3 linked regions of the Homo sapiens genome follow. The protein of the gene in region 1 interacts with the protein of each later gene in a biochemical or structural test. Each region holds a gene or a part of one and is shown on either strand. Other genes may lie near its edges.

Evidence for each region.
Region 2: the proteins of UBE2D3 (region 1) and NEDD4L form a complex in vitro, tested with the Homo sapiens proteins (7 studies listed by BioGRID).
Region 3: the proteins of UBE2D3 (region 1) and RNF4 form a complex in vitro, tested with the Homo sapiens proteins (6 studies listed by BioGRID).

What each region holds. Positions count from the first base shown.
Region 1 is NC_000004.12:102,824,552-102,832,051, reverse strand, and holds the start of UBE2D3 (ubiquitin-conjugating enzyme E2 D3), read left to right. Parts: upstream 1-4,500; 5' UTR 4,501-4,625; intron 4,626-5,193; exon of another isoform or gene 5,194-5,415; 5' UTR 5,416-5,543; coding exon 5,544-5,567; intron 5,568-6,189; exon of another isoform or gene 6,190-6,314; intron 6,315-6,734; exon of another isoform or gene 6,735-6,813; intron 6,814-7,500. UniProt on the Homo sapiens protein: Accepts ubiquitin from the E1 complex and catalyzes its covalent attachment to other proteins. In vitro catalyzes 'Lys-11'-, as well as 'Lys-48'-linked polyubiquitination.
Region 2 is NC_000018.10:58,362,204-58,369,228, forward strand, and holds part of NEDD4L (E3 ubiquitin-protein ligase NEDD4-like), read left to right. Parts: intron 1-2,064; coding exon 2,065-2,130; intron 2,131-3,795; coding exon 3,796-4,025; intron 4,026-5,542; coding exon 5,543-5,664; intron 5,665-7,025. UniProt on the Homo sapiens protein: E3 ubiquitin-protein ligase that mediates the polyubiquitination of lysine and cysteine residues on target proteins and is thereby implicated in the regulation of various signaling pathways including autophagy, innate immunity or DNA repair.
Region 3 is NC_000004.12:2,472,084-2,479,108, forward strand, and holds part of RNF4 (E3 ubiquitin-protein ligase RNF4), read left to right. Parts: intron 1-7,025. UniProt on the Homo sapiens protein: E3 ubiquitin-protein ligase which binds polysumoylated chains covalently attached to proteins and mediates 'Lys-6'-, 'Lys-11'-, 'Lys-48'- and 'Lys-63'-linked polyubiquitination of those substrates and their subsequent targeting to the proteasome for degradation.

The DNA of each region.
Region 1 (7,500 bases):
CTCTATGATGTTGTCTGATGCTTACTGGTCTCCTCAAGAGACTTTCTTATAGATGACATCTGTGTCTTTTATGTATCTTCAGTGTCTAGCACCTAATAGTAATTCGATGTTTTTTAAATAAATAGAAAACTAGGAGTGACTCTATCAACAGATCTCTACTACATTAACATTCTTTGTCCTAAACCTGAAAGACTCCCACTTGCCTATTCAGACCTAAGTATCACTGATTGACAAACCGAATGAAAGTCTCTTTATCGTGCCTCACCCTACACCAAAAGCAGTATTACAAATATATATTTTTTTAACCTGTGTTTGTAAGTAAACCAGCTTTTTGGAAGACAGAATGCACTATTGTGGTCATTTCACATAAACAGAATCAAACAGTATGTGGCCTTTTGTGTCTGGCTCTTTCACTTGACAGAATGTTTTAAGGCTTCAAGATACATTTTGTAACATGTATTAGTACTTTGTTCCTTATAATAATAATAATATTCCATTATACACATATATCACATCTTCTTTATCCATTCATCAGCTGATGGACATTTGAGTTGTTTCTACTAAAAAGTAGAATAGCCCTACTCTGAACATTTGTGTATATATATGTTTTTGTGTGGAAAAATGCTCTATTTTTATCTCAAAGATTTGTGCATGCTTCATTACATGCCAAAAGCCTTATTAAGGCCAAAATGACATCTTAGCATGAAATAAAGTACACTTTCTTAAACCATATTAATTTGACTTAATGAGATTCTGAATTGTTAAGTATAGAAATCAATTTGATTTTTGTGCAAACAATGTAAAATAACATTTGGTTGACCTGGGCTCCAAATTACTTGGTCCAGGCAGAATATGTAAATGAGCATTCTGAATATAAAATCTGGACCGTAGCATTTACAATTTAATTAAACTAATAAAATGGTATACACTGTACTAGAGCCAGTGTCTTTGGCAAGTTATAATATTCTGTAACAAAATTAAAGATACATGAAAACATAGATACAATATTAAGTACATATATATAAAATCTGTTAATTATGTTTATTCATCAATACATTCTAATTAACCCCTTACTCTCAAGTTATTATAATAACGTGGCCTCACTGAAAAATTCATGTAATAAGACCCTGGCACACCACCATTATTCAGATTGGTAGATTAATTGCCCATTTACTAGTAATTTTCTCTGAGACAGGGTCTTGCTCCATCACAGGCTTGAGTATAGTGGCACAATCACAGCTCACTGCAGCCTCAACCTCCCAGGCTGAGGCAATCCTCCCACCTCAGCCTCCCAAGTAGCTGGGACCATAGGCGTGTACCACCATGCTCAGCTAATTGTTTTATTATTTTTGTAGAGACTGGGTCACCCTATGTTATCCAGGCTGGTCTCAAACTCCTGGGCTCAAGTGATCGTTCCACCTTGGCCTCACAAAGTGCTGGGATTACAGGCGTAAGCCACCAGCCCAGCTTTAATTTTCTTGATCCTTTCTATTTTCTCATGTTTTATGTCAATTCATGCAAGATAATCTGATCTACTATATTTACAAAGTTTTTAGGACTTCAAAATAGTATTTATTAAGGAAGGGATTATTTTTAGTTAATTAAATTTTCAACATTTTTGTACCTTTATTAATTTCTAAATGTAAATTTTTCTTTCAGTATTTACAGCCATAATTTTTTTCTTGTTAGCATTATTTCCGACTGCAATATAAAAAACATGATTATTTTCCTTTCTTGTTTCAAATGAGGACATCTCTACCATTGTAATTCAAGTAAGTTAAATGAATGAAAATGTTTTAACTTTATTTGCAACTGTAAAGTGGGCTCTCTGTAACAACAGGTACATGAATAATGTTTTAAAATTTAACTTAATCTTAGCCTGCTTTATCCTAAGGCATCAAAATGCTTCTAGGCTATGTTTCTTTTGATTTTAACCATGGCAAAATATAAGCAGAAATGTAAGTCCACTTATGCAAATACAAACTTGTAAACAGAAAGCCCAATCAACCAATGAATTTACTTCACTGCCTAACAATAATGAGTTTGTGATTACACAATCACTTGCCTTTATAAGCATGGATAATCTAGAACTCCATATATATTAGTTTTGTTTTTTGTTCTTGTTTTTTTTTGAGACAGGGTCTCACTCTGTCGCAGTGATCTTGGCCCACCGCAACCTCCGCCTTCCAGGCTCAAGCGATTCTCCGGCCTCAGCCTCCCAAGCAGCTGGGATTACAGGCGCCCGCCACTACGCCCAGCTAATTTTTTGTATTTTTAGTAGAGATGGGGTTTCACTGTTTTGGCCAGGCTGGTCTCGAACTCCTGATCTCATATGATCCACCCGTCTCAGCCTCCCAAAGTGCTGGGATTACAGGCGTGGCCACTATTACTACTATACATTTGTTTCACACTATGGCCAGTTAATGTCTGACTGGTTACTTTAATAACTGACATTTATACAGCACTGTAGAGTCTCCAGTGTCCTTTCACATATATTATGACACTTTAACCACACAATCACCCTGTGAGAAAGGACAGTCATTATTACTTACTTTAGCGGTGAAGAAACGGGGTTAGAAGATAACTAACCAGGCCAATATCAAGCAAATGGGAAGCAATAACTAATCTGGGTTCCTCCCTCCATCTTCATGCCTAGTCCTGTGCTTTTAGTATATCTGGCTAGCTATGAGAGAGAACACAGATTATTCAGGGAGGAGGGAGGGGCCAGAGGTGTTACTGAGGTGAGCCTCATGAGCAGTTAGGCCATGAGGTAAGCACTTCAGTGCTTTGCTACTCACGGGGTGGTTCAGACGAGAAAAATCTGTATCACCTGGGAGCTAGTTAGAAATGTAGGCTCTCAGGCTCCACCACTGCCCTACCAAATCAAAGTCGCATTTTCAACAAAACCCCAGGTGGTTCCTATGGACACTAGTTTGAGAAGCACTGCTTCACTAGTGACACTACATGGTCACTTGAACAGTATACATTAGACTACTTATATTCATCATTGTTGACGTGTTAAGTTTTTATTAGGTAAAACTTTCTGCAACAGTTTTCAAATTAAGTGTATTTTTAAAACAAGTTTATTTTTCCAAGTAATTGAAGATCTCCACTTCGGTAACTGGGGTCATTAAGGAATGTTAAAAAACCTTAAGCTGGTCAGTGCTTACCCACTTTTAAATTCCTCATAAAAATTAAGGTCTTTCTTTTGCCTGAAGGATACACTAGAGAGCATAACTGCCGTCTCCATACTTTAAACCCTTGACTAAAACAGGCCAATCCTACTGAGGTAAATCCCACCTCCCAACTTGGATATTTCAGGAAGTATTGTATTGTTTTTCTGACTCTAAACTCTACCTAATTAACTAATTAGTCTCAACACTTTCTGGCTCAAGAACTGAAACACAGCAACAGAAGCTAAAGTTTGAGAATTTAAGCTTGTTCCCACATCTACACCTTGGCGGACGGCAGCGACTGATTACGGAGACCAGTGAAAACCCTGCCCCTAACTCTCTCTGTCCTAGCCCCATCCACTCAATTGAGCTTGACTCAGCCTGCTCCCTGCTGTTCTCAGTATTGCTCCCTTAGGGTCAGACGTGCACTAGACTTCAGCACGTGGGAGCGCTGATGAGCGGCCAACCTGGGTCTATTTAAAACTACTATTCCCATCTCGAGGGGCGCCTCCTCCCACAGCATAACCAGCCCAGGAGGGCAGGCGAGTAAATACTGCTCACCTGCTCCACCGGAAACCTCAAAATCCCGGCCCGAGCTAGACTAAAGGTATCTGGTAATTAATCCTTGGCACCTCCCACCACACGCTCCTGATTGGGCGCGTGAGACAAGGCTGTGTCTGCGCGCGCTCTTACCAGTCTGGGGAATTCCATTTCCTCTACCAACCACCGGCATAAGCATTCAGGGGCGTTGCTTTCCTGGCAGTGGCCCGCCCCAGTTCGAGCCGGTGCCTTACTGCGTCTCGCGAGAACTTATGCATTTTGGAGGCGGAACCCCGTCAGGAAAAGCGCACAAAACTGCTCTTAAGTCATTGCAGAGCTACCGCTTCGGTTAGCCAGCCACGAAGTTCTCGCGAGAGTCGTCTCCTCGATACCAAGTGAGGAAACTGGGGGACGCTGTGGGGAGGGGCGTGGGGCTGGATCGCGCAGCGGCTGCTTCCTTTACCTTCCTCCCATGGTCTCCTTCCGGTTCTCGATGCTTCTCTGAGCCTAAGGGTTTCCGCCACTCGTTCACCCTCCCCCCAGCTCATGATCCTCCTCCCTCCCCCGCCCTCCTGGTCCAATCTCCGATCTGTTTAGTAAGAAGGTGCTGTTCCGAGAAGAAGGAAAAGGGCTTGACACGTATTCACTCGGCCCCGGACGTGGGAAGCAAGCCGTCTGGCTTCGGCCTCACATCGGTCTTGTGCTCGGGACGGCGGCGTTGGCGGACTGATCCGCGGCGGTGAAGAGGCAGGAGGAGGGGGAGGGGCGGAGCGTGGCAGCTGGCAGTAGTTCCGTCAGAGCGGACATCTTGTGGCTGTGTCGTGCGCGTGAGCCCCGTAGGGCCGGGGAGGCACCAGCTGCCGCGCGGGGAGGAGGCCGAGGCCGCAGCTTGAGGGAGGCCCCGGCCCCTCTGTACGCGTGGGTGTGGACGGCTAGGGCAGGGAAGGGAGGCCGGCCCAGTGGCCGGCCGGGTAAGAGGGGCAGTGCGGGACCTGGGCGGCTTGAGCGGCCAGCCTATTGGGTGCGGTGGGTTAGGGTGGGAAGGTTGGGGAAGCCGCGGCCTCTCCTGCTGGAGGAGGAGGGGGAATGGGCGCGTCCTCGCGCCTAAGCCGGAGCCTCAGGGACAGCGCGGGCGCGTGGTGGAGGTGGCTGGGCGGGCGCGCGCGGGAGCGCGCTGGAAGGCGGAGTGAGTGTACGGTGGCGTCAGGGGTGACACAGAATAGCTCGCTGCGAGGATAGCAATACACATCAAGTCTCCCTTCCTTTATTTCCTTCCTTTTCCCGGCCGCACCTTTGGACAGAAACCGAAAGCAGCCCGGCGTCCGTCCGGAGTCTTATGCTTCCCCCTCCCCCCTTGCCTTTCTTTGCCCTAGTGACGCCGGTATAGCGCCGACTAGGCCCCGGCTCCTCCTCTGCTGGGCTCCGGACCCTGCCCCGCACCCACCCCTTTCTCCTACGCCTCTTCCTCTCCCACCCGGGTCTCTTCCTTTCTAGAGGCCGGGAAGTTAAACTTGTAGCCACCACCTCCGCTCTTCCCGTCACCCTCGCCCCCACTTCGGGCCGAAAGCACGGTACAGAGGCTGTTGGTGGCTTTGCCACGCCACCCCACCCACCCCGGATCGCGGCTGTCTTAAGGGACCTGGATTCATCAGGGGCTCTTCGGGGCCTGTGCGAGTGCTGATCTGCTCCGTTTTTGCAAAAGGCGCCTGTGTCTGGCAGAGCTGGTGTGAGACGAGACAATCCTGCCCCGCCGCCGGGATAATCAAGAGTTTTGGCCGGACCTTTGAGCATACACCGAGAGAGTGAGGAGCCAGACGACAAGCACACACTATGGCGCTGAAACGGATTAATAAGGTAACCCGCGGGGACAAGGGCATGGGGTGGTAGGAGAAAAGGAAGGCTCGGGCCAAGAGGAAAGCGTGGGGGTGGGAAGGAAGCATAATTCTGAAAATACCTCTTGGATCACTTCTTCCATGGGGGGATGGAGAACGCAGATATACTTCTTGAAGAAATGAAGTTTAAAGCTAGGAAACGGAGAACACTTGTGGCAAGTGAGGTGTTATCCTGAGTGCTTCAGTGGAATCGGTGCAAATTAGGGGTGGAGGAGAGTGACTTAAGGCGCCTTTATTATTTTATTTTTTTGCTGCTTAAGAAGGAGTTTTTTTGGGGGTCCGAATTGCGGAGAGACGCTCCAGCAGATGTCATGGCGCTTCCTATTCTTGGTGCTTGAAAACTTAGTTTAGTTGTGAGATCAAGGTTATCTAGGCCTTCTAGGGGTAAGAAAGAAAACTCGGAGGAGAGAAAAAAAATCTGGCGAGTCCCGAACTTGACTGAGGGTCGGGTAGAAGAAGTCTTGCGTATTGAAGGTCAGTCAGTGAGTCTAGTAGAAACTCTTAGTCGACTCTGGGCAGGTTACACCGAATAAGTGGGTTTGGGAGGAGATGGAATGACACAGTGTTGCCACTTCCTGTATTTTGTAGTTGCAGCTTTTCACCCGAAGCTATTTATCCGAGGGACACCGGGAACTGATGTAAAAGGCATTCTGGAAGCTCCCTTTTCCTTTTGGCTGGAGAGTGGGGGTGGATAAGGGGTGCGATGGCAGTAAGGGAAAGCTAATGTACCTATTTTTGCCTCATTCTATTTAATAACACCCTTGTTTCGTTACTTGAAATGTGGTTTGATAGTATATTATCGATTTAAGTTGAAAAAAAACTAGGATTTTTCGGAGCTCTGGGAGTGAGCGGAACCTCCACCTCCGGTGGTTTAGTCTCATTTTCTTGCTCTAACTTCTATCCCGCATTTTAAGATGGCGGCTGCTTTAACTGGTTCAGGCTCTTTCCGGCATCTCCTTTCGTAATAATGTGAATTAATATGATTTGTTAAATGTTAACTTTTATATCGCGTTGTGCACTGCTCTAAGATCCTCTGCTCAAAACTTACCTAAATTCAAACTCTTAAACTGTATTTCCCTTTTTTGTGACTTGTATTTGTGTGATGTGTTTGGTTGTTGCACAATCGAAGAGGGTGGAGTGTTTACAGCTAACTTGAAAAAAATGTCATGGAATAAATTCAGCCTTACTAGAAAAATTGTGGAGTGTCGGTGAGTGTTAGAAACTTTGGTTTTAATAGATTACTTTTTTAAAAAGAGTTCTGAGAGGAATGGCAAGAATTTGCCTTTACTAAAATAGACCTGATACTACATTTGCCTGTATTTAATTATGACTGGAGTTTATTTGGCAAGATTGGTGTTTCATGAAAGAGGAAGGTTTAAATCTTCACTCTTAGTATGTATTGATATGAAATCGTGAATTTTGTTTTGGGCCTTCATAACATCGTCATTTTGGGTTATGCGAAATACAAATTTAAATCTTTGTGAAATGAAAGAAAAGAGGAAGAAACGCTTTTTAGGAGTTAAGGATTAAAGTAAAAATTATTTTGAAATAATTACCTCTTTTTGTGACCACTTTAAAGGCCAGGAACATATTGGAGAAGCCTAGTTGTATGTTACAGTGTGGTTTACACAAAGAGCATAACATTCAGTACAAATAAAAATCTTTTCTGTTGGAATTAGTTCAGGCCACTAAAATGTGGAATAGTACCAGATCCATAGCTTTTTGTGCATGTGGAACAGAACACGTTAAAGGAAGGCCTCTGATTTTTTTTCTCTTACAGGTCATACCCAGCTGCTGTGACACCACTTAAATGATTTAAAAGCTTTAGAGAGACAATATAACAGTGGTTAAGAGTGTAAACATTGGAGCAGAAATGCTCCAGTTAGAATTCTAGC
Region 2 (7,025 bases), on another chromosome or scaffold:
TGCTCCTTGGGGAATTTGTCATTTAAGACAGTCGAACTTGCATACACAGTGATGACTGTTTAAGCTTTTTTTCCAACATTTTCAGGAGTAGGGGGAACTGTGATGTAACAGTGATGTTTGGAGAACCCTCACGAATACAGGAACAAACAAAAAATAGTTGCTGGGAATCACAGACTTTCAGAAATAGAAGAGCTGAGTCACGTTTGTTCATCCAGTCAAATTCTTCCACTTAACAGTGAAGAAACTCCTTAGTAGAGAGGATGTGATGCAGAGCCAGCTGATGAGAGTCTACCCGAGAGTGCAGGCCTTCTAACGCTGGCAGGAGAGAGTGGAAGGAAGTCACTTTTTTAGTTCCTATGGGGTCATTTTTTTCCTCATGGCACTACCACGGTTTATTCATTGATTTCCTATTGCCTGTTGCTCTCAACAGCTTGTGAGCTCCAGGAGGGAACTGGGAAAGCTACCTTTGGTTTATGTACTGTTATTTTTCTGGCACCTAAAATGCCTTGCACAGAGTAGGTGCTCAAGAAGTATCGGTTGAATGGACGAGAATGAACACCAGAAAGTGAGAAATAAACTAGAGAGGAAATCTTAGTTTGTGACGGGATGTACTGTTGGTAGAGCAGAAAACATGATCTCTTTATTGGCTTATGTCAGAACATTGTATTCTTTTTCTTATTTTGGTGGTTGTCCAGGTATTAACAAATTTATACCTTGCCTAGACTCAGAATTGCTATGTGGTTTCATCAGACTAAACACTGCCTAAAATAAATAGGATGTGAGGTCAAATCTGTTGTTCAGTGGAAAATCAAAGAAGACTGGCTTAAAAACTAAGAAAAGACCATAGGCAGTGTAAATTGTCTATAGATTGCTCCTAAGCTATATAAAGATGATGTATTTTTTGCTCTGGAATTACAGAGCAAAACACTGACGTGCTCATTTTCTGGAAGAGTGGTTGTTTGTTTTGTTTCGGGTTTTTTATATAAACATGTCTTAAAACTATAAAAGAGGGAAGTTCATGTTCTTCATTTCTTCTGTTTCTGGTCAAGATAAGTATGGTGAAAGTGTAAGGTTTGGAGTCTGGAGATACTAGACTAAGGATCAGTATATTTTATTAACTTAGGCCGAAATGATAACAGCAGAAGTATTCTCTGCTGAAATTCATACTAGTGGCTAAAAAGCAATGAGTTGTTTTCGAGGCTGTCATAGTTAATGTCTGTGTATATGCAAAACCCAATCCTTTTTGCTCATAAAAATATCGTAAGCTTTTTCAGTAGCCAAAACTCACGGCCCTGACTCTAAGATATTGTAAGCTACTTTACAAGGTAGCAAATAAAGATTATTTAAATGACTACATTAACATGTTACTCCTTTGCCTGAAGAGATATCACAACTTTTGAATGACTATAGTTAACTCAATTCCTGAGCCCTCAACTGGGGTACTATCACTCTATTTCATAGATAAAGCATTTGAGATTTAAAGAAATCCTTGCCCAAGACCACTAAATATTAAGGGACAAACCTTCTGACTTCTAAATTGAGGATTTTTTGAGAATGCCATCTGCCTGATTTTATATTCCTTGATAGGAGTGTCAGTTCACTTCCCTTTCTGCTCGTTGTATTTCCCCACAAAAATTCGTTAAACCGTAATTAGACTTTTCAAAATGCCAACGTAGGTCATTCTGGGTTGTATGTTAGAAGTATTTAGCCAATAACTCTTACCTAAACCACAGCAAAAAAGAAAAACAGAAACACCCTGACTCATATTCTGACAAAAGTCACTTGGAAAGCATGTTTAGTTTGTGTAGCGTACCCCAAATGGTTTCTCAAATAGCAGTATAGCTGTTTTCAGGGGTGAAAGCTGCATTCAAAGCTGATTAGCCCTCATCAGTTCTAGGACTTTCCCCTGTGCTGTGTAGACATTATCTAATTTTTCCATGGATAATCTGAGAAGTGAGAATTTACGGTTTATGACTCATGAAATTCTCTTGAATGTTGCCTCAGTATACATAAAATTTCAGGTGTATTGTTTGCATTATCTATATTTATAAATTTATCTTCCAGGCTGTCCCTTACTCCAGAGAATTTAAGCAGAAATATGACTACTTCAGGAAGAAATTAAAGAAACCTGTGAGTAATCATGCCTTCCAAAAATGCTTTGTGTTAGTCATTTGTAAGTTACCACAGTCACTTCAGTGAGAACAACTTGGTTGTTACTTTTATATGAATGCTAAAAATATTACCTTCCTTTTCTCTCTGCACTTTGATCCTCCTGGTTCTAAAATCTGAATTTTCTTTTTAACAGAAATGGTAAGTGAAAATTAACTCAGTGTTACATATCAAATCACCTGAAGGGTAATTTCCTATGTAATACATAAAAAGACAGGAATGATTTTTATGGGATATAAAATAATTCAGAACCCTAGTCACAAAATCTGTGGAAGCCTATTCAATTATGCGCAGTTATCATATTTAATTAACCTGGATCCCGGTAAGAAAAATGTTCAAGTCCTTCCTTGTAAATGCAAAAGCTTAGTTTCAACTACAGTATTTATAATATAGTGTTATATTTAATTATAATAATTGGCAGTATTACGTCCAAATGTAATTTTCTACTTATAATTATCCCTGGCAGTTTAAAACCTAGAAACTCTAAAAATTTTTATGGGCAACATTTTAAATTATAACATTGCATTTTCTAATGACACACCATCCCCAAATTGTTCAACATTGCATCCTCTGTTTTACTTTCCGATTCCTCCTTAGCAGTTTTCTCTTCAATTTTCTCCATCACTATGGTTACACCTCTAGGGAGGGGAGAGAAGCGGCTGCAGCTCAGACCCCCTCTGGTGGCCTGGGCTCCATTGCCATCTCTCCCTGCCTCCTCCCCTCAGCTGGTTCCTCCTGCCCGGGAACATCTCTGGATGGGGCACAATGTCTGCTCTCATTTAGGGGTTTTGGTCTCTGTTCCAAAGTCCTGATTCAAGAGCTTGCGGGTAACTGCTATTGAAATGATTCTTTGCCTTCAAAACTCAAATGATCACTGAAAATTCCACAGTTTTCTTTGTGAGTCATGTCCCCTGGTAATGATGATGACTGTGGTCATCACCCAGTCTCACTCTATGGCTCTCACATAGCAGTGTCTGCTACCCGGAAACCATCTCTGCACATTCATTCTTACAGCCAGACCAAGCCTGGACCGCCTCTTTGCAGGAGGCAGTTGCCACAACCTTGGTCAAGTGTTTTGTTATTTTCATGTCAGCGAACCATGCTTTGGGCTGCTTTCCCCACACTTGGCATAATCAGGATCCCACTCCCCATGGCAACAAAATGGACTTGAGGCAGCGTGGATTATATCTACCACCTGGCGGCCCTGCCACAGTTGAGCATGGATAGGCCCAACCTGGCCAGGTGGGGATTATTACAGGTTTTGACTACCTGGGCTAAAGTCTCTTGAGTGAAGCAACAGATACAGTCGACTGCCTTTCGGTTGCCCTATGCTGGAGAAGTGCCCACAGTTGTTTATTAAAGGGGGCAAGGAGGATGTTCTCCTTCGCAGCAGAGTTCTAACTTTCCTGAGCATCGCTAGTGGATGCCGTGTGTCCCATCGTGACACAGCAAGGCTTTCTGTCTGCAAGGGAAAACCCCTAAAGGAGAGAATCTCAGTTGGAACCATTTGTCACTGCCTGTTTCTTTGAGGACTGCCAACTTTTCTACCATTTGCTGTTGTTTTTATTAGAAAACAAAGTGTGTATTTACTGTATGATTATGTGTTTTCTTTTGTCTTTTGTGTAGGCTGATATCCCCAATAGGTTTGAAATGAAACTTCACAGAAATAACATATTTGAAGAGTCCTATCGGAGAATTATGTCCGTGAAAAGACCAGATGTCCTAAAAGCTAGACTGTGGATTGAGTTTGAATCAGAGAAAGGTCTTGACTATGGGGGTGTGGCCAGAGAATGGTTCTTCTTACTGTCCAAAGAGATGTTCAACCCCTACTACGGCCTCTTTGAGTACTCTGCCACGTAAGTATATGGCCACACCCAGTGTGTGTCCCCCACTGAGACAGTTGTATGAATTTAAACAGAATGAAAGGATAAGCAGCTCATGAGTTCGAGATGCATTAACTCTGCTGAGTTTGTTCTCTCCTCACCCCACAGCCCCTTGCAAGTCTAGAACAGGTTCTGACTCTACGTGGTGAAATAGTGTACTCTGCGAACATCTAACATTGATTTTTTTTCTTGTCTATTGGGTTCATGGAGTTGAAATTGAAAACGTGGATAATTATGATAAGGAACAGGAGGCGATTTTCATTTGCAGTGTTCAAGAGGAGGACTTGTCAGTGTTAGAATTCAAAAACAAAGGAGGTGTTTTTTGAACAAGAGTCGTTTCTGAGGTCTCCTGTGTAAAGGCAAATTGTAAGGACTTTGAGGACCTAGGACCATGCCCTGCTCCTGTAAGGAAAGAACCAGGTTTCCCCTTGCATTAGGATTTCATCATTGCCAGGCTTGGAAACTGAGGCAGACTAAATTGCTTTCTGAGCAATTAAACATCAGCTACTTCCAGGCCAGCCATTCCTCCTTCAGACTCTGAATCCTCCAAGGGTTGGGCAGTACCCAAGCCCCCAGTAGAATAGTCATTGACCTTGCTGAAGGGCATTTGTCATCACTCCAGCCCTGGGCTCTAAGGGGACGTGGGTTCCCCCACATCTCCCACCTGGTACCAGTCTCCTGGGGGCTCATTTGGAAGGCCGCCTCAGTACATTCTTCCTGGTTGCTCTAGCCAAGAATTGCCCAATTGATTTGTTGTTACTGAGTCCCATGAGAAAGCCCACTATGTACAATGTATCCAACTATTGAAGGTGGAGGGCAGGGTGGAGAGAGACAAGATCTTTACCTCTTCTCCACATTTTCAAAGATACCCCCACCCCGGAGGAATCAGTCTGTGATCCCAGTTTGAAAACTACTGATCCACATGATTGTGAACCAAGCAAGATCATTTGGACAAATCTAAAAATTTGCAGGTTTGCATCATTGAGAGAGCCATATCCTGTTCCTAATCCCCTCGAGGCCTTTTCAGAGCAGAGTAGTGGTCAGAAGACAGACCAAGGGTTGGGCCCATAGCAAACATCTTATGGCCAAGCCAAAAGCCTCTGGAAGGAATTAAACTTCCTTCATCACAGAGACGACCTAAAGTACTCACATCTTTGGGAATCCCTGCACAGCCCCTTTATTATGTGGCGTTTCTCATCTCCCCAAGATATTTGGCTGAACCATATGAAATAGACACTTCGTAGGTCAAAAACAGTCAAACATCAGCGTCTCTTATGGTTTAATTGACTTTAGAGGGCACATGCGTCAGCCTCCATGGTGGGTCACGGTTGAGCATGTGGTAAGTCAGGTCCTCTAGCCCACACATTTTCCCACTAGGTACAGAATGCTCGCAGGGACACTGTAAAAGTTGAGTGACAGGTGGCAAACAAATATGCAAAATCTTGCATTTGAAAGTGTGATTGGGCTTTTCTTCTCTTTCTCCTCAAAAGGGACAACTACACCCTTCAGATCAACCCTAATTCAGGCCTCTGTAATGAGGATCATTTGTCCTACTTCACTTTTATTGGAAGAGTTGCTGGTCTGGCCGTATTTCATGGGAAGCTCTTAGATGGTAAGTCTTGAAGTAATAAAAATAGGTCAGTGCTGCTTGCGGTTTGCTAGTAGGTGTCTTATCTTTCGCATCATGGGTTTTTAAGCAAAAGCTTCACTGGTTTACTCATAAAGTATTTTTATGTTTTGCCCATAATGGATGTCCTTTTCTCTGGTAGCTTATTTTGGGCACTGAAGACATAGTGTCTACACACAGTTAAAAACAAAAGTTTTTTTTTAACTTCAGTGTAAAACACAGAACATTATGTATTTATACATTTGTATGTTTTCTGGAATAACTTTAGTGAAAGCAAGATTTGATAACAGATGGAAAAACTAATTGAAAAGTTAATTAAAATGATCTCATCTATCTAATATCCTGTGATTATTGCGTTTGTCCCCAAATTATTTTTTAATTTGAAGGGACTAAATAATTTCAAAATAATGTTACTGCTTAGCTAAGACATTAACCCTGAAACAAATAACACAAAATAATTTCATTCTTATTTAAAGCATATAGATCATGGAAGAATTTCAAGGTACCTTGAAAGTTAGAAGTCAAACCCTCTACCTGGCGGTATCTATAGGCTTAGAGACTTCTAAAAGATTTGGCCAATTCAAAATAGTGTCCTTAAGAAAACACTACAGAAATCATCAGTGAGAAAAAAGCATCAGAAATACTTTTTAAGAGCCTGGAGGTAGAGTGGTTGAGGATGGGAAGAGGGAGAGTAGGATTTGAGATTGACATTGCAGTAACTTATAAGAAAGATATTTCCAAGGGAACTGTGTTCATTGCATTTATAGAGCCTTAGCTATTCTAATAAATAATTTGTATACCCTCTGTACTTTTCCCATGAATATGTTTTTACTGTTAATTGGTAGCTGATATTGATGCTCTGATTTTGTTGCTTTATTTGGTAGCAGGGCGACAGTAAACACTTTTTTTCCTCTAGAAGGAAACTAAACCACACACTCTTTCCATGTATGTATAGTGTGAATATATTTTAATTTCCAGCTTTGGAGTCATGCCATAGATTGTTTCAGCCTGCTCCAATTCACTCCAACTTTCTCAGAAGGTCAGTTTAGTCACCGTATGCAAGTGAGAAGATGCTGTTAGTTGCTACAGTGTCTTTAATACCCTCTCTAACAGGGGGTAATAGAGAAGCATAAGATATGATCCTGACCTTAGTCAGCTTATATTTTAGCGGGGGGAAAAGAGATGAGAACAAAACCAGAAGAATCACAGTGATAGTGTCTGAGCAGAAGGGAGTGCATTGAGTCCTCAGAGGAGAAAGTGACTTGGCTGGAGGCTCAGGGAATCTTTCCCAGGATGAGCTGCACCTCGGAGGTGGGGTAGCATTTGAGCGTTCAAAGGCTGGGGTC
Region 3 (7,025 bases), about 100 Mb from region 1:
GCTTCAAAGGACAGTCTGATTCTCTTGTTAGGGGCTAGTGTGGCCAGTGACTTAAGTTGTAACTAGTGCTCATTTACCATTCTGAAAATCCTAGGGCCCTTAAGAAGTATGCAAAAATCTACTGTGTGCTGATCATTGAAACAGGAAAGCCTGTATAGTAGCATATCTGTTTACAGTATGTTTTACTGAATATTTTAAGCCCACTATTGAGATCTACAGCTCAGAAAAAAAGATTTCTTTCAAAATATTACTGCTCATTGAGAATGTGCTTAGTCACCAAAGAGGTCTCATGGAGATGAGTAAGATTAATGTTAACATCTGTTCTGCAGCCCATGGATCAAGGAGTAATTTCAACTCTCAAATCTTACTTAAGAAATGCATCTTGAGGCTGAGCACAGTGGCTCATGCCTGTACTCGCAGCACTTCGGGAGGCCAAAGCTGGTGGATCGCTTGAGCTCAGGAGTTAGAGACCAGCCGGGGCAGCATAGTGAGACCACCCCCTCCACTGCCAGTCTCTTAAAAAAAAAAAAAAAAAAGGGCGGCAGGGGGAAAGAAAGAAATGCATTTTGTAAGGCTACAGCTACATAGATTGTGATTCTTCTGATGGGTATCAACAATGTAAATTAAAAACCTCCTGAAAGGATATACTATTCTAGATACCATTAAGAATATTTGTCTCCAGGCACGGTGGCTCACCCGTGTAATCCCAGCACTTTGGGAGGCGAAGTGGGCGGATCACAAGGTCAGGAGATCGAGACCATCCTGGCTAACATGGTGAAACCCCATCTCTACTAAAAATACAAAAAATTAGCCGGTCTTGGCAGCGGGCACCTGTAGTCCCAGCTACTCGGGAGGCTGAGGCAGGAGAATGGTGTGAACCCGGGAAGAGGAGCTTGCAGTGAGCCAAGATAGCACCACTGCACTCCAGCCTGGGCAACAGAGCGAGACTCCATCTCAAAAAAGAAAAAAAAAAAGAATATTTGTGATTCATGGGAGGAGGTCAAAATATCAACATCAGCAGTTCACGGTGGCTCACGCCTGTAATCCCAGCACTTTGGGAGGCTGGGGCAGGCAGATCACCTGAGGTCAGGAGTTTGAGACCAGCCTGCCCAACATGGTGAAACCCCGTCTCTACCAACAAAATACAAAAATTAGCCAGGCATGGTGGCACGCTCCTGTAGTCCCAGCTACTTGAGGAGCTGAGGTAGGTTAATCGCTTGGGCCCAGGAGGTGGAGGCTGCAGTGAGCCGAGATTGTGCCTCTGCACTACAGCCTGGGCAACAGTGAGATTCCGTCTTAAAAAAAAAAATCAATTAACACAACAAGAACTTGGAAAAAGTTGATTCTGACCCTCATGGGTGACTTTGAGGGGTTCTAGACTTCAATGGAAAAAGTAACTGTAGATGTGGTGGAAATAGCAAGAGAACTAGAATTAGAAGTAGAGCCTGGCCGGGCCTGGTGGCTCACGCCTGTAATCTCAGCACTTTGGGAGGCCTAGGCGGGTGGATTACGAGGTCAGGAGTTCACAACCAGCCTGGCCAGATGGTGAAACCCCGTCTCTACTAAAAATACAAAAAATTAGCAGGGCGTGGTGGCGCACGCCTGTAATCCTAGCTACTCTGGAAGCTGAGGCAGAGAATTGCTTAAACCTGGAGGGGCAGAGGTTGTGGTGAGCCGAGATCACACTACTGCACTCCAGCCTGGGCGACAGAGCGAGACTCTGTCTAGAAAAAAAAAAGTAGAGCCTGAAGGCTGGGCCTGATGGATCACCTGAGGTCAGGAGTTGGAGACCAGCCTGGCCAACATGATAAAACCTTGTCTCTACTAAAAATACAAAAATTAGCTGAGCGTGGTAGTGGGATTGTTACTGCATAGTAATCCCGGCCACTCCAGAGGCTGAGGCAGGAGAATTGCTTGAACCCAGGAAGCAGAGGTTGCAGTGAGCCAAGATCGGGCCACTGCACTCAAGCGTGGACAATAGAGTGAGACTTTGTCTCAAAAAAATAAAAGGGCCAGGCAAGGTGGCTCACACCTGTAATCCCAGCACTTTGGGAGGCCAAGGCAGGCGGATCACGAGGTCAGGAGATTGAAACCATCCTGGCTAACACGGTGAAACACCGTCTCTACTAAAAACACACAAAAAAATTAGCCAGGTGTGGTGGCACGCACCTGTAATCGCAGCTACTCAGGAGGCTGAGGCAGGAGAATCGCTTGAACCCAGGAGGCAGAGGTTGCAGCGAGCCGAAATCACGCCATTGCACTCCATCCAGCCTGGTTGACAGAACGAGACTCTGTCTCAAAAAAAAAAAAAAAAAAAGTAGAACCTGAAGATGTGACTGAATTGCTGCAATTTTTAAATAAAACTTGAACACATGGAGAGTTGCTTCCTGTGGACAGGCAAAGAAAGTGGTTTCTTGAGGTGGAATTTACTGCTGAAGGTGCAGTGAACATTGTTGAGATTATAACAAAGGATTTAGAATATTTTATAAACTTAGTTAATAAAACAGTGGCAGGGTTTGAAAGGATTGACTCCAATTTTGAAAGAAGTTCCACTGTGGGTAAAATGCTGTCACACAGCATTGCACGCTACAGAGAAATCTTTCATGAAAGGAAGAGACAACTGATGCAGCAAACTTCATTTTAAGAAATTGTCACAGTTGGCCCAGTGCGGTGGCTCACGCCTGTAATCCCAGCACTTTAGGAGGCCGAGGCAGGCGGATCACCTCAGGTTGGGACTTCCAGACCAGCCTGGCCAACATGGAGAAACCCCGTCTCGACTAAAAATACAAAAAAATTAGCTGGGCGTGGTGGGGCATGCCTGTAATCCCAGCTACTCGGGAAGCTGAGACAGGAGAATTGCTTGAACCAGGGAGGCAGAGGTTGCGGTGAGCCAAGATTGCGCCGTTGTACTCCAGCCTGGGCAACAAGAGTGAAACTCCATCTCAAAAAAAGAAAAAGAAAAACTGTCACAGCTGCCCCAACCTTCATTAGCCACTGCCCTGATCCATGAGCAGCCATCATCAGGGCAAGACCCTTCACCAGCAAAAATATTACAACTTTGTGAAGACTCAAATGATCATTAGCATTTTTTATTTATTTTTTAAGAGAATATCTCCCTGTTGCCCCAGTTGGAGTGCATTGGTGCGATCGTAACTCACTGCAGCTTCCAACTTCTGGGTTCAAGAGATCCTCTCACCTCAGCCTCCCAAGTAGCTGGGGCTACAGGCGCACGCCACCGCACCTGGCTTTTTGTTTGTTTGTTTGTTTGTTTTTGAGATGTAGTCTCACTCTGCCGCCCAGGCTGGTGTGCAGTGGCGCGATCTCGGCTCATTGCAAGCTCCGCCTCCCAGGTTCACGCCATTCTCCTGCCTCAGCCTCCCGGGTAGCTGGGACTACAGGCACGTGCCACCATGCCCAGCTAATTTTTTGTATTTTTAGTAGAGATAGGGTTTCACCGTGTTTGCCAGGATGGTCTCGATCTCCTGACCTCAAGATCCACCCGCCTCAGCCTCCCAAAGTGCTGGGATTACAGGCGTGAGCCACCTCGCCTGGCCCACACCTGGCTAATTTTTAACAAAGTTTTGTAGACTGGGTCTTGCCCTTTTGTCCAGGCTGGTCTCAGACTCCAGACTCATGATTTAATATCTATGGTTGAGTGATTCCCTACTTCTTACTCTCTTACAGAACCACTCTATAAGATAGTTGTTGTAGTTAGCCCCATTTTACTCTTCCTGAGGCACTGGGAGATCAGGGTCACTTGCCCAAGGTCACACAATTAGTAAGCAGAGCTCGAAACTTCACCCCACCCCTGACTCCTACCTTTGTTCCTTTTGTTAGGCTTTGTTATGTCATCTGCTTTTTTTGTGTGGTGGGAAAGCACATGGCCAATGTTTCTAGAAACTTCAAATAGTAAAAACAAAATAGTATCTTTATTTTTGCTTTCACCGCAGAGGAGTCTGATAATTATCCTCAAGAAAATTTATTGATTCTCAGTAACTGTATTGTATTCCTCAAAGTTATTTTTCCTAAGTTTTCTCCTCTCACCAGCTAAGGGAAGTTGTCCTAGGGCCTAGGCATTTCCCTGTCTGCCACACCTCACCTCTTACTTTAGCCAAACTACTGCTAAATTCTGCTCCTAAATATGGCAGCATTCTGTGTTACCTGCACTAAAATTTGCTTCCCTTGTAAGTACCTTCTTGATGTCTTCCAGTGTTGGTTCTCGCCTCCTACTCTTGCAAGTTGAAAAGTTGAAAATGCCTCAGGTAGAAATGTTCTCTCCTATTCTCCCATCATGATCATCTGTGTTTTTTTGTTTTTTGTTTGTTTTTTGAGACGGAGTCTTGCTCTGTCACCCAGGCTGGAGTACAGTGGCACGATCTCAGCACTGCAACCTCTGCCTCCCGGGTTCAAGCAATTCTCCTGCCTCAGCCTCCTAAGGACCTGGGATTACAGGCATGTGCCACCACGGCTGGCTAATTTTTTGTATCTTTACTAGAGATGGGGTTTCACCATGTTGGCCAGCCTGTCTCGAACTCCTGACCTTGTGATCCACCCACCTCGGCCTCCCAAAGTGCTGGGATTACAGGTGTGAGCCACCACGTCCAGCCCTTTTCTTTCTTTCTTTTTTTTTTTTTTTTAATTTAAGAGAAGGTTGTCTTCCTATGTTTCCCGGGCAGGAGTGCAGTGGCTATTTGCAGGTGCAATTATATAGCACAGTACAGCCTAAAACTTTTTTTTTTTTTTAAAGACAGAATCTTGTTCTTTCTCAACTCACTTCAACCTCCACCTCCTGGGTTCAAGTGATTCACCTGTCTCAGCCTCCCGAGTAGCTGGGATTACAGGTGGGCAGCACCACGTCTAGCTCATTTTTGTATTTTTATTAGAGACAGGGTTTCACTATGTTGGCCAGCCTGGTCTTGAACTCCTGACTTCAGGTGATCTGCCCGCCTCAGCCTCCCAAAGTGCTGGGATTATAAGCATGAGCCACCATGCCCTGCCTACAGCCTCAAACTTTAAGCTAAATTAATCCTCTTGCCTCAGTGTCCCAAGTAAATGGGAATACAGGTGCTGATATGGTTTGGCTGTGTCCCCACCCAAATCTCACATTGAATTCCTACATGTTGTGGGAGGGACCCAGTGGGAGGCAATTGAATCTTGGGGGCAGGTCTTTCCCATGCTGTTCTCATGATGGTGAATAAGTCTCAAGAGATCTGATGCTTTAGGTCGGGGGCGGTGGCTGATGCCTGTAATCCCAGCACTTTGGGAGGCCAAGGCGGGCGGATCACGAGGTTAGGAGTTCAAGATGAGTGTGGCCAACATAGTGAAACCCTGTCTCTACTAAAAATACAAAAATTAGCTGGACATGGTGGTACATGCCTGTAGTTCCAGCTACTTGGGAGGCTGAGGCAGGAGAATTGCTTGAACCCAGGAGGTGGAGATTACAGTGAGCCGAGATCATGCCACTGCACTCCAGCTTGGACAACAGAGTAGACTTAATCTAAAAAAACAAAAGAGATCTGATGCTTTTATAAGGGGGAGTTTCCCTACACAAGCTCTCTTTGCCTGCTGCCATCTATGTAAGGCATGACTTACTTGCTTCTCCTTGCCTTCCGCCATGATTGTGAAGCCTCCCCGGCCATTTGGAACTGGCTTTTGTAAACTTCTTGCTTTTGTAAATTGCCCAGTCTCAGGTATGTCTTTATTAGCATCGTGAAAACATACTGGTACAGTAAGTTGGTACCAGTAGAGTGCGATGCTGCTGAAAAGATACCTGAAAATTTGGAAACAGCTTTGCAACTGGGTAGCAGGCAGGGATTGGAACAGTTTGGAGGGCTCAGAAGAAGACAGGAAAATGTGGGAAAGTTTGGAACTCGCTAGAGACTTGTTGAATGGCTTTGACCAAAATGTTGATAAGGATATGGACAATGAAATCCAGGCTGAGATGGTCTCAGATGGAGATGAGGAACTTGTTGGGAACTGGAGCAAGGGTCACTCCTGTTATGTTTCAGCAAAGAGACTAGCCGCATTTTGCCCCTGCCCTAGAGATTTGTGGAACTTTGAACTTGAGAAAGATGATTTAGGGTATCTGGCAGAATAAATTTCTAAGCAGCAAAGCATTCAAGAGATGACTTGGGTACAGTTAAAGGCATTCAGTTTTATAAGGGAAGCAGAGCATAAAAGTTTGGAAAATTTGCAGCCTCCTGTCAATGTGCTAGAAAATAAAATTCCATTTTCTGAGGGGAAATTAAAGCCAGCTGCAGAGATTTGCATAAGTAACAGGGAGCCAAACGTTAATCCCCAAGACAGTGGGGGGAAATGTCTCCAGGGCATGTCACAGGCCTTCATGGCAGCCCCTCCCATCATAGGCCCAGATGCCCAGGAGGAAAATATGGTTTCCTGGGCTGGGCCCAGGGTTCCCCTGCTGTGTGCAGCCTAGGGGCCTGGTGCCCTGCGTTCCAGCCGTCTCAGCTGTGGCCAAAAGGGGCCAACATAGAGTAGAACTCAGGCTGTGGTTTCAGAAGGTGCAGGCCCCAAACCTTGGCAGCTTCCACATGGTGTTGAGCCTGCGAGTGCGCAGAAGTCAACAATGAGGGTTTGGGAACCTCCACTAGATTTCAGAGGATGCATGGAAACACCTGGATGCCCAGGCAGAAGTTTGCTGCAGGGGCGGGACACTCATGGAGAACCTCCGCTAGGGCAGTGTGGAAGGGAAATGTGGGGTTGGAGCCCCCAAGCAGAGTCCCTACTGGAGCACCACCTGGTAGAGCTGTGGGAAGAGGGCCACTGTCCTCCACACCCCAGAATGATAGATCCACTGACAGCTTGCCCTGTACACCTGGAAAAGCTGCAGACACTCAACACCACCCAGTGAAAACAGCCGGGAGGGAGGCTGTACTCTGCAAAGCCACAGGGGTGGAGCTGCCTAAGGCCATGGGAACTCACCTCTTGGATCAGCGTGACCTGGATGTGAGACATGGAGTCAAAGGAGATCATTTTGGAGCTTTGAGATTTGGACTGCTCTGCTG